Linked DNA regions of Homo sapiens: region 2 is linked to region 1. The links come from fine-mapping of genetic effects on gene expression. Tissue or cell type: prefrontal cortex. Region 1 holds a variant in brackets; the other region holds the start of a gene. All regions are shown on one strand. Distances are between the middles of the regions.

The links. PIP is the estimated chance that this variant, and not a neighbour inherited with it, causes the effect.
Region 2: PROKR2 starts here. The variant in region 1 is fine-mapped to the expression of PROKR2 in prefrontal cortex (ROSMAP, PIP 0.95).

The regions. Positions count from the first base shown.
Region 1 is chr20:5,431,970-5,436,131 of GRCh38, reverse strand. LINC00658 (long intergenic non-protein coding RNA 658) reads left to right here. Exons shown (of 5, transcript NR_038240.1): 3 at 1,727-1,960; 4 at 2,062-2,343; 5 at 3,494-4,162. Among named protein-coding and RNA genes, the nearest start is that of LINC00658, 12 kb to the left of the region's middle. The variant G/T (reference allele first, on the strand shown) is at 1,842.
Region 2 is chr20:5,314,618-5,318,779 of GRCh38, reverse strand. It overlaps PROKR2 (prokineticin receptor 2), which reads left to right and starts at 1,826. Exons shown (of 3, transcript NM_144773.4): 1 at 1,826-2,286.

The DNA of each region.
Region 1 (4,162 bases):
GGTACAGGCATATGGGAACTCTACTGTTTTCTCAACTCTTCTGAAACTCTAAAACTGTTCTTTAACAATTCAGTCTATTGTTAAAAACTCAAACAAAATGATACGGGCTATAGGCTGGATTACAATTCAAGGCTATGGACATACACAGAAGAATATTATTAACATTGATTTGACTTATTAACAGCAAAGGTATTTAATTTTCCGAAAAGATTTTCAATTGACCAACTTAAACACTTTATTCTCCAAGCATGATCTACACAGTTTGAGAAATATAATAAGAGAAACTGATAAGGTTTTTTCAGCATTGCAATAATCACCTTAGCTCTTACCTGCCTGTTTAATCCTTACAATAACTCTAGGAGGAATATGCTGTCTCCATTTTAAAGATGAAGAAATTGCAGTTTAGTCGATTGCCCAAGTTTGGACAGTTAGTAAACAATAAACAAAGATTTGAACTTGGGAAGTGTGAATTCTATACCCACAGTCTTAACCCTATGCTGCACACATACCAACATTAACAGCTGAAAATATTCCCAATAACTGAGTTGACTGACTTGCTATATGCTGTTATCAGCAACATAATAGTTAGAAATTGATGGCAGCTATTATGAATAAGGACTTTTGCTTTAGACAAGTTGATTTGTAGATTATTTTTCTGGCAGAAATTTGAAACCAGAGAACTGTTGACTATTGGATATCCTATGATTTTTTTTAATAGAGACGGGGTCTCACTTTGTTGCCCAGGATGTTCTTAAACCCTTGGGCTGACGCAATCCACACGCCTCAGCCTCCCAAAGTGCTAGGATTACAGGTGTTAGCTACCACACCTGGCTATTTTTTAAAAATCATAAAATGTGTGAAAAAATTACCATGTCAGTAAAAATTCCCTTCACACCAGAATTTGGCATAGTGTAGAAACAGGTTATTATTGAACTTAGAACATCAGGTTTTTGCCTGAAAAATTATTTCTACTTATCAAGAAATGTTCTTGAATGGAAGTGAACATTATGTCCAAGGCACTGACCTTTCATAAAAATAAACTGGAGAAAAATGCTTTTTTGAAAATAAGGACATTGACCTCACTGTTGGCTACTCTTAATGTGTTGTGTGTGAAATTCTGATTAAAGTATGATAACATTTCAAAAGTGTTGCTTAACCTAGTATACACTTTCAAGATATAATCTTTGACTGAGGAAGACTCAGTCTAGCGAAAGTCTTTTCTATAATGTGAACATGACTTTCAGACGAAGATGGTGATGGTACCATCAATATTTTGCCTTAAGAAACTTAAGAACTTAATACAAAAAATTTAAATGTACTCCCTTTAAGGGAAAGCCACCAGCAATTTCTAAACTTAAAGCAGGAAGATGAAAGGATAGAATAAATTGTGCCTTATATTCTACAATTCCAGAAGAAACATGAGCCCAACTCCGGGGTTGCACACAGTCATGCCAGTGTGATTTGGGGAGGAATCCTGAGGCTCCAGCCCTGGGCTCCAAGTTTTGATCCCTCAGCATTGGGTACAGAAGGCAGATTGATGCTGCTGGTGTGGAATTTCCTGGGGCCTGACTTCACTAACTCATCACATCTCATCATTCTTCCGTTCTCTCCTCTCTGAGTCCTTTTCTTCAGCTGTTGCACCATTTCTACTTTGTTCAGAGGGATAATGCTGGAAGGTATAGGATGTCAAGTTCACTCTGCTTTTATTTTTTATTCCCTTTGGCAGACAGTTGGCATCTGTGTGAAGATGTGAATGGAGGAGGCAGAGTAGGCAGTGAGTGCCGCAGCCACAGCTTGTGTTCTCTGCAGCCCTGGCACAGAAGATAGGAACACTCATGGGG[G/T]ATGCGGCCACTGTGATGTCTTCCCACACAAGAAGTGCCAAGTGCTTTTCTCATGCTTTTCTGGATTGTCCCATGGTGGACGAGTCAGCAGGAGTGAGATGGAGCAGCACAGTAGAGGGGTACCTGGCAAGGCCCGGAGGGAGGACCCCCTGCCCCAAACATTTCAATGATATCAGGTGACAGCCGTGATCCTCTTAGCACCTGCTCTGTTTTGTCCCAGGCCAGGATATCGTTGTACATATTCTCAGCTAAGTGAGCACCAATAGAGGAGAGGGAGAGTCTCATGGAAGTTCCTTCTAAGCCTTTGGCTCTTTTTACCTTCAACAAGGTGTGCCACCTCTTTGATCCAGCAAGTGGGAAGAACAGTCCCGGCCTCTTTGCACACAAGACCGTGATACCAATGCACCATCACAGGCCCCACAGGGGAGCTGTCCGCTTCCCCACACAGCTGCTAGGGGCTCTTTTGCATGTTCCCAACCTTTCCTGCCTTTATCTGATATTCGTAAGTACAATTGTAGAAAAGGGAAGGGCTTTACTAGTCAGCAAGTGTCAGCAGGTTGAGGATCCTCTAAAGGCATCTTGGAAAATCAAGGAAGGAGACACATGCCTAATTCCTATGCTCTGTTACCCTGGCCTCCAGCAAAGTCTACCCTCATATCAGAGAGACCCATTGTAGATAAATATGGGCTGCCAAAAGCAAGACAAGCCTTGGGCAAACTGCCCAACAGATGGTTCAACTCTGTGTGTACCAGCCAAGGGCCAACGTGTCAGACAGTAGCTTCTGTTTGTGCCTTAAGTCGGAGTTGTGAATATAAGATAATTCCGGGATGGCAGGGATCCCACAGTTATGGATGTGGGATGGTTTAGTTCCATCCAAGACAAACTTAGGACATCCTCTTTCAGGGGTTTGAATACACAGCTTTCTCTGCTACCCCCTCAAAGCGTTGGCCACCAGAGCGGAGTGGTTAGAAGGGTGAAGGGCTTTAGACAGGAGGGAAGGAATGTCCTTGCATGGCTTACAGGATGGGGACCCTAGCCAAGATCTTGGTGCTTTGGCCTGCAGGCAGCATCAGAAGCCAGCCCAGGGAGTGGGGCAGTGGCCTTGTACAGAGGGCTAGTGGTGGCTAAATTTATGTGTCAACCTGACTAGGCTAAGGGATACTCACACAGTGGGTGGAACATGATTCCTAGGTGTGTCTGTGAGGCTGTCCCCTAGAGGTTGGAATTGGACTCAGTGGATTGGGTGAAGATCTGCTCTCACCCGTGTGGGTGGGCACCGTCCAATCCACTGAGGGCCCGAATAGAATAAAAAGGTGGAGGAAGGATGAATTCACTCCCTCTACTTGAGCTGGGACATCCATCTTCTCCTTGGACATCTGTGCCCTGCTTCTCAGGCCTTCAAATCCTGGGACTTACACAGGCTCCCCCACCCCCTGTCCCCCCAAGGCTAGTCCGATTCTCACTCTGTTGGACTTGAACCAAATTACACCACTGGCTTTTCTGGTTCTCCAGCTTGCAGCCAGCAGATGGGAGTACTTCTCAGTCTCCATAACCACATGAGCCAATTCCTATAATAAATCTCATAGCTATTGATCTATAACTATTTATTCTCTGGGAAACCTTTACTAATACAGGGCTCTTGTTTCCCTCAGGTTCCTTAGATCCTGGGATGAGGAGGTGGACCAGCAGAAGGTGGGCTTGTGAAGGCAGCCCGGGGTCCAAATCCTCCTGGCTCTTCAGCTTAGCGGGTTAGTTAACATTCAGAAGCCTTCATCTCCCATCTGCAAAATGGGCATGTCCAACTCAGAAGCTGCCTTGAAGAAAGGGTCTACCCAGCATGGTGCGTGGAGCCTAAGCAGTCAGTACTTCAGGACTTCACCCGGCCCCTTTCCAATAACTGCTGCTGTCGCCCTCACAGGATGTCACCTTCAGCGTCTGAAAGCTGGGTTTGATGCGTCTGGAAAGGCGTCCCTGACAGGCGTCGTTGCCAGGAGCCCCTAGTGCCACCAGCAGCCAGCAGGGGAGGGCGTCCTCTGCCCGCTCACTTCTGACCCTTCTCTCGTTGCACCCGGAACATGGTGCAGCTGGGAGCAGCCTGGGCTGCGCGGAAGGCTCAGATTTGGGGACGGCCCTTGCCAGTGACTGTGAGCTGGGGTGTCTTGGAAACTCCCAGTCTCAGCTTCTCCATTTATAAGATGAGAATGATCATACCAGACTCAGGCAAGGTTGTTTGTGCATTAGTGAAATCAGACGTATTAAATAAAGTACCACATTGATCGTGGAGTTGTTGAATAACCAAGAACACGCCTATCTGTCTCCAA
Region 2 (4,162 bases), 120 kb after region 1:
CCCGCCTCATCAAAGGCAATGTCCCCTCTGCTGCCCTCCTGTAGCAGATGTGAGAGTGACGGCCTGCCCAGAATCTCCTCTGCTCACCTGCAGATGCAGTTCCAGGCACCATGACACCTCCCATCCAAGGCCTGAAGCTCTCTTCTTTTCAGCCTTGGGCTTTCTGCACCACACCGGGACACAACTCAAAAGTGAGGGAAATTCTGGCTCTCAGGGAATCTGTCCATCAGTAGGGGGTAGGAATCGATGGCTGAATGTCCAGCCTCCCCGCGCTGCTGTGAACAACCATGAGGCATGTTCTACACGGTCTGCAGGTCAACTGGAGTGAGCCGCAGTGGCACCCTGCTCGTTAGCATATCGTGTATGGGCCCTTCTCCCTTCCCTGCCTCACTTCCCCTCCCCCTGTGTGTGCTTCCCGGGATCTGCTCCCAATAAACTACCTGCACTCAGGTCTTTGTCTGGGAGTCTCCTTGGGGGAAACCTAAACTAAGACAACTCCCCGTAGCACTCTGTTGCACTGTTTTCTAAGCACCCACTGTCTCCCTGGGGACCACATGTCCATCCCCAGAAAAAGCTCCTACTCTGCTGAGGGTGGTCAGGACTTGGAGTTACTACAGCGACATCTGTGGGTCGCCAGATCTGTGTGGAAGCAACCATGCCTTAACTCATCTCAGAGGATTCCATGAAAGCACCAGCGGGCAGATGGTCCCAGGGGTCTGTTTGCCCCCATTGAATAGGGCAGGCATGGTCCATGAGCGAAGAAGCCTCTAGCTGAAGTTGGTAAGTATGCACTATTGCAAAGAATGTGTCCAGGGCGTACAACTGGCCACCCCATCATCTCCCCCACTCAAGCAACAGAGCTTTTTTGCCTCCATATCTGGAAGTTGCCCTGAGCATGTAGAACACCTGCCCAATCGCAGCCCCTCCCCAGGAGGAAAGCAAACAGCTGGCTCTCTTGCCTTTGATCATGCGGGAGAGATGCTAAGAGGTAGGGAGAGTGGGGTCAGGTTCCAGGTAAGGTGGGAAAAGCAGAATCACAGAATGTCACAACCTGAAGGAGTTTGAAGTTCATTTATCCAAAAATTTTTAATTGGCAGCCTTGTGGACTGTGTTCAGTCTGAGACAGGTTCTCTTTGACCAAAACAAGATTTTTGCTTTAACGAACCCAAAGACTATTTTTAAAGTTCTCGAATTCCAGATTCTCTTGAAAACAATGGGAAGCTCTGACAAAGTGGAGTCCATGTTCCCACCTGCCAATAATCCGCTGGCTGGGGTTTAACGATGGGGAACACCTTTTTAGACCTTCAGGGTCCTGCCACAGGTTCAATCCTGTATGCCCAGAGCTTCCTGGGCACCAGTCATTTGAATGGGCAGTTCCTGTGTTTAACCAGGAAGGTCGTGGGAGGATTTCGAACCTGTCAGAAGCAAAGTGAAGGGCTCCAGACTCTCCGGACAGATGGGCTGAGGCACTCCTGGGATTGTCTTTATACGGCCATGGAATCTGATAGTGGTGGTCATCGCAAAGTTTGGGTGAGGACTTCAGGGGCTTTGAGCAGAGCAAACTGTCCCCATCCCCAGCTTCCTCCTGGGGGCCTCCTCCTTCACCGCCATCTCCAAAGGCCCACACCGCACTCGTCGGAGCCGGGCTTTCCTTGAAAGGGTCACCTTCTAGTGGGCGCGGACGCTGGCACTGGGCACCTCCGGAAGACAGGACTCTCCCCTCCTGCGCGCGCGACCCGGGTGCGGTGCCACGACTGGCGGCAGAGGGCGGTGCTCACTGTTCCCAAGCGCACGGTAGAAACCCGGCTACTGTGTGGTCCGATTCAGACGGGATGCGAAGGCGCTGAAATCCGTGCGAGAGGCTGCCCCCGCTGCCGGGGACTCGCGTCAGCGCGGCCGGAGCTACGGTGCCCGCGCCCTGGACGCACCAGCCCGAGAGCACGCGGTGGGGTGGGGGAGCTGGGCATCCACCCTTGGCCTGGACTAGGAGGCAGGCGGGGACCCCGGGGCGGAGTCCAGCGCGGGGCGGGGCGCACAGGTCCGAGACGCTGGAAAGAGCTGTGGGGCCGGAGCGCCAACTCCAGCTGGAACCCAGAGACCCTGACACGCCGGAGGAGCCCGCCGGGGCGAGGAAAAAAGAGGGACATCCCCCACGCAGCGGCTCTGCAAGTGCAAGTCCGGGTCCTCGAGGTGAAAACCGAGCGGCCCGCCTGCGCCCAACCACACTGTGACTCTCGATCCGGCTTCCGGAGCAGCAGAGCGCACAGAAAGGAGGCGCCGAGACAGGTAAGGGCTTAGATCCCTGCAGTCCCGGGACTCAGTCGGTGCGGTGGGGGAGTCGCTAGGACAAGGGCCTCTGACGCCCACTTTTTTCTCGGGCATTCCGGCTGCTTTGCCTCCCGCCACTCTCGAGATATGCGTCGGGGCTGGCTCCAAGCAGGCGAGTTGGTTTCAGGAGATCCCCTCTGGGCCCTCTAGGACCGGGTAGGGTACGGTAAGCGGAGTCTGTGGTGTGCGGGCGCGGGCAGAGGGAGCCAGCGGGTAGCTGAGCTCGCGGACGAGCTCCAAATTGCAGGGGAGGGTGCAGGTAGAGGGGCACCTTCCTGAAAGGTGAGCAGGAAACAGCAAGCGTCCGTGGGGAAATTCCCGCGCACCGCATCCTCCACCCACCCGCCGTTTTCTTCCAGCCAGGAGGCACCGCAGCCTTTGCTTCTAGAGCCTGAATTTCTGACTTGATTCCTGTCTTTGCCAGGATGTCGCCTCTAGACGCCGACAGTGCGGCCGCGTTGATGGGGCGGGAAGGGGGCTGCTGGAACGGGTCGCTCCCGGGCGGGGAGTGCAATCTACGAAAATGCGGCTGGGACCTGTCCCAGCCCGGGCGCGCGCCCTCTTGTCTTGGGTTAGGGGGCTGGAAAGCCGAGGAGGGGTAGGACTCCCCATTCTTGGTCCCACGCTGAGCAGAGGCTGCGGGGATTGGGGTGTCGCATGAGACGGAGGGGCGACCTGGAGAGAAGACACCTCCGGGTGTGGACGCCACTGGGATTTGCATCTCGCCTCTTGGAGGTTTTCACCTTGGGAAAGCAGCTGGCGGGCGCACCCCAGGTTAGGGTGTCTTTTGCTGGCGCGCAGTTCCTGTCCCTCGGCGTTCTCCTCCCCTCGCAGGAGTGGACCAAATGCATTGTTCAGCTGGGTCATCTCCTTGCTACCCAGCATCCCGCGGCGCCCACATGTGGAGTCGTTTCCAGGTGTGCTGAGAGGCGAGGGGAAGGCCACTCACAGCTGGACAGCCAGGGCCCCTTTCTATAGGTGTTGGGATCTGGGCTCTTTTTCCAGCCCCTCGGTGAAGCCTTGTACCCTGGGGTGCCCTATCTCCTGCGGGCTGAGGGCTTCAGAGACTATTTTCCCTATTTTGAGACCTTGGTGACAGGACATGGTGCCTTTCAGGCAGGGTTGACTCTGGGTGGAGAACTAGGGCCAAGTGAAGGAGGTCAGAGAGCAGATCCAAAGTTGGAGTAGGGTGGGAAGGGCGGCAGAGGATTTCTTTCTGGAGCTGGTTCCCACAGAACGGGGAGCAGCAGGGGAATTCCCCTCCCCCACCCCACCACCACCTCCTCCACCTACAGCGCCCTGGTCATGCACTCAACAGATGTCTGTCTAGCCCCCACTATGCACCAGGCACTGGACTGGGCAGCAGGAATTTGGTTTACAGGAAGATTAGGACTCAGAGAGCATAAATCACTGGCCCAGGGTGACTCAGTCTGTCCATGTGAAAGTGAACTTGGTGATTTCCAAGTCTATGGCTTGGTCAGTACAGAAGGAGTGGTGTCCTGCTTTGGAGAGAAGACCCCGCAGCATCCTGGCCCTCCTGCTTCATTGTCCCTGGCCAACAGGTGCCACAACGTTGTGACAGCTGTAGGAGCCTGGCCAGCTCATGGGAGCATCCTTGGAAATGTTCCAGAAGCCCCTGTGGGAGCTGATGTGTTGGGGGCTGGAGGATGTGACTGGGCAGACAAAGAGGCCCTGGCCCCTGGGCAAAGGGCAAAGGTGCACATTCTTCTTGAGAGTTCTGGACAGTCTGATCCATCCTATGCTGTCCTTCCTGACAGCTGGGCAGCCACGGAGGGTTTCCCAACTTACAGATCTCAGGTCTCCTCTCCCCGCA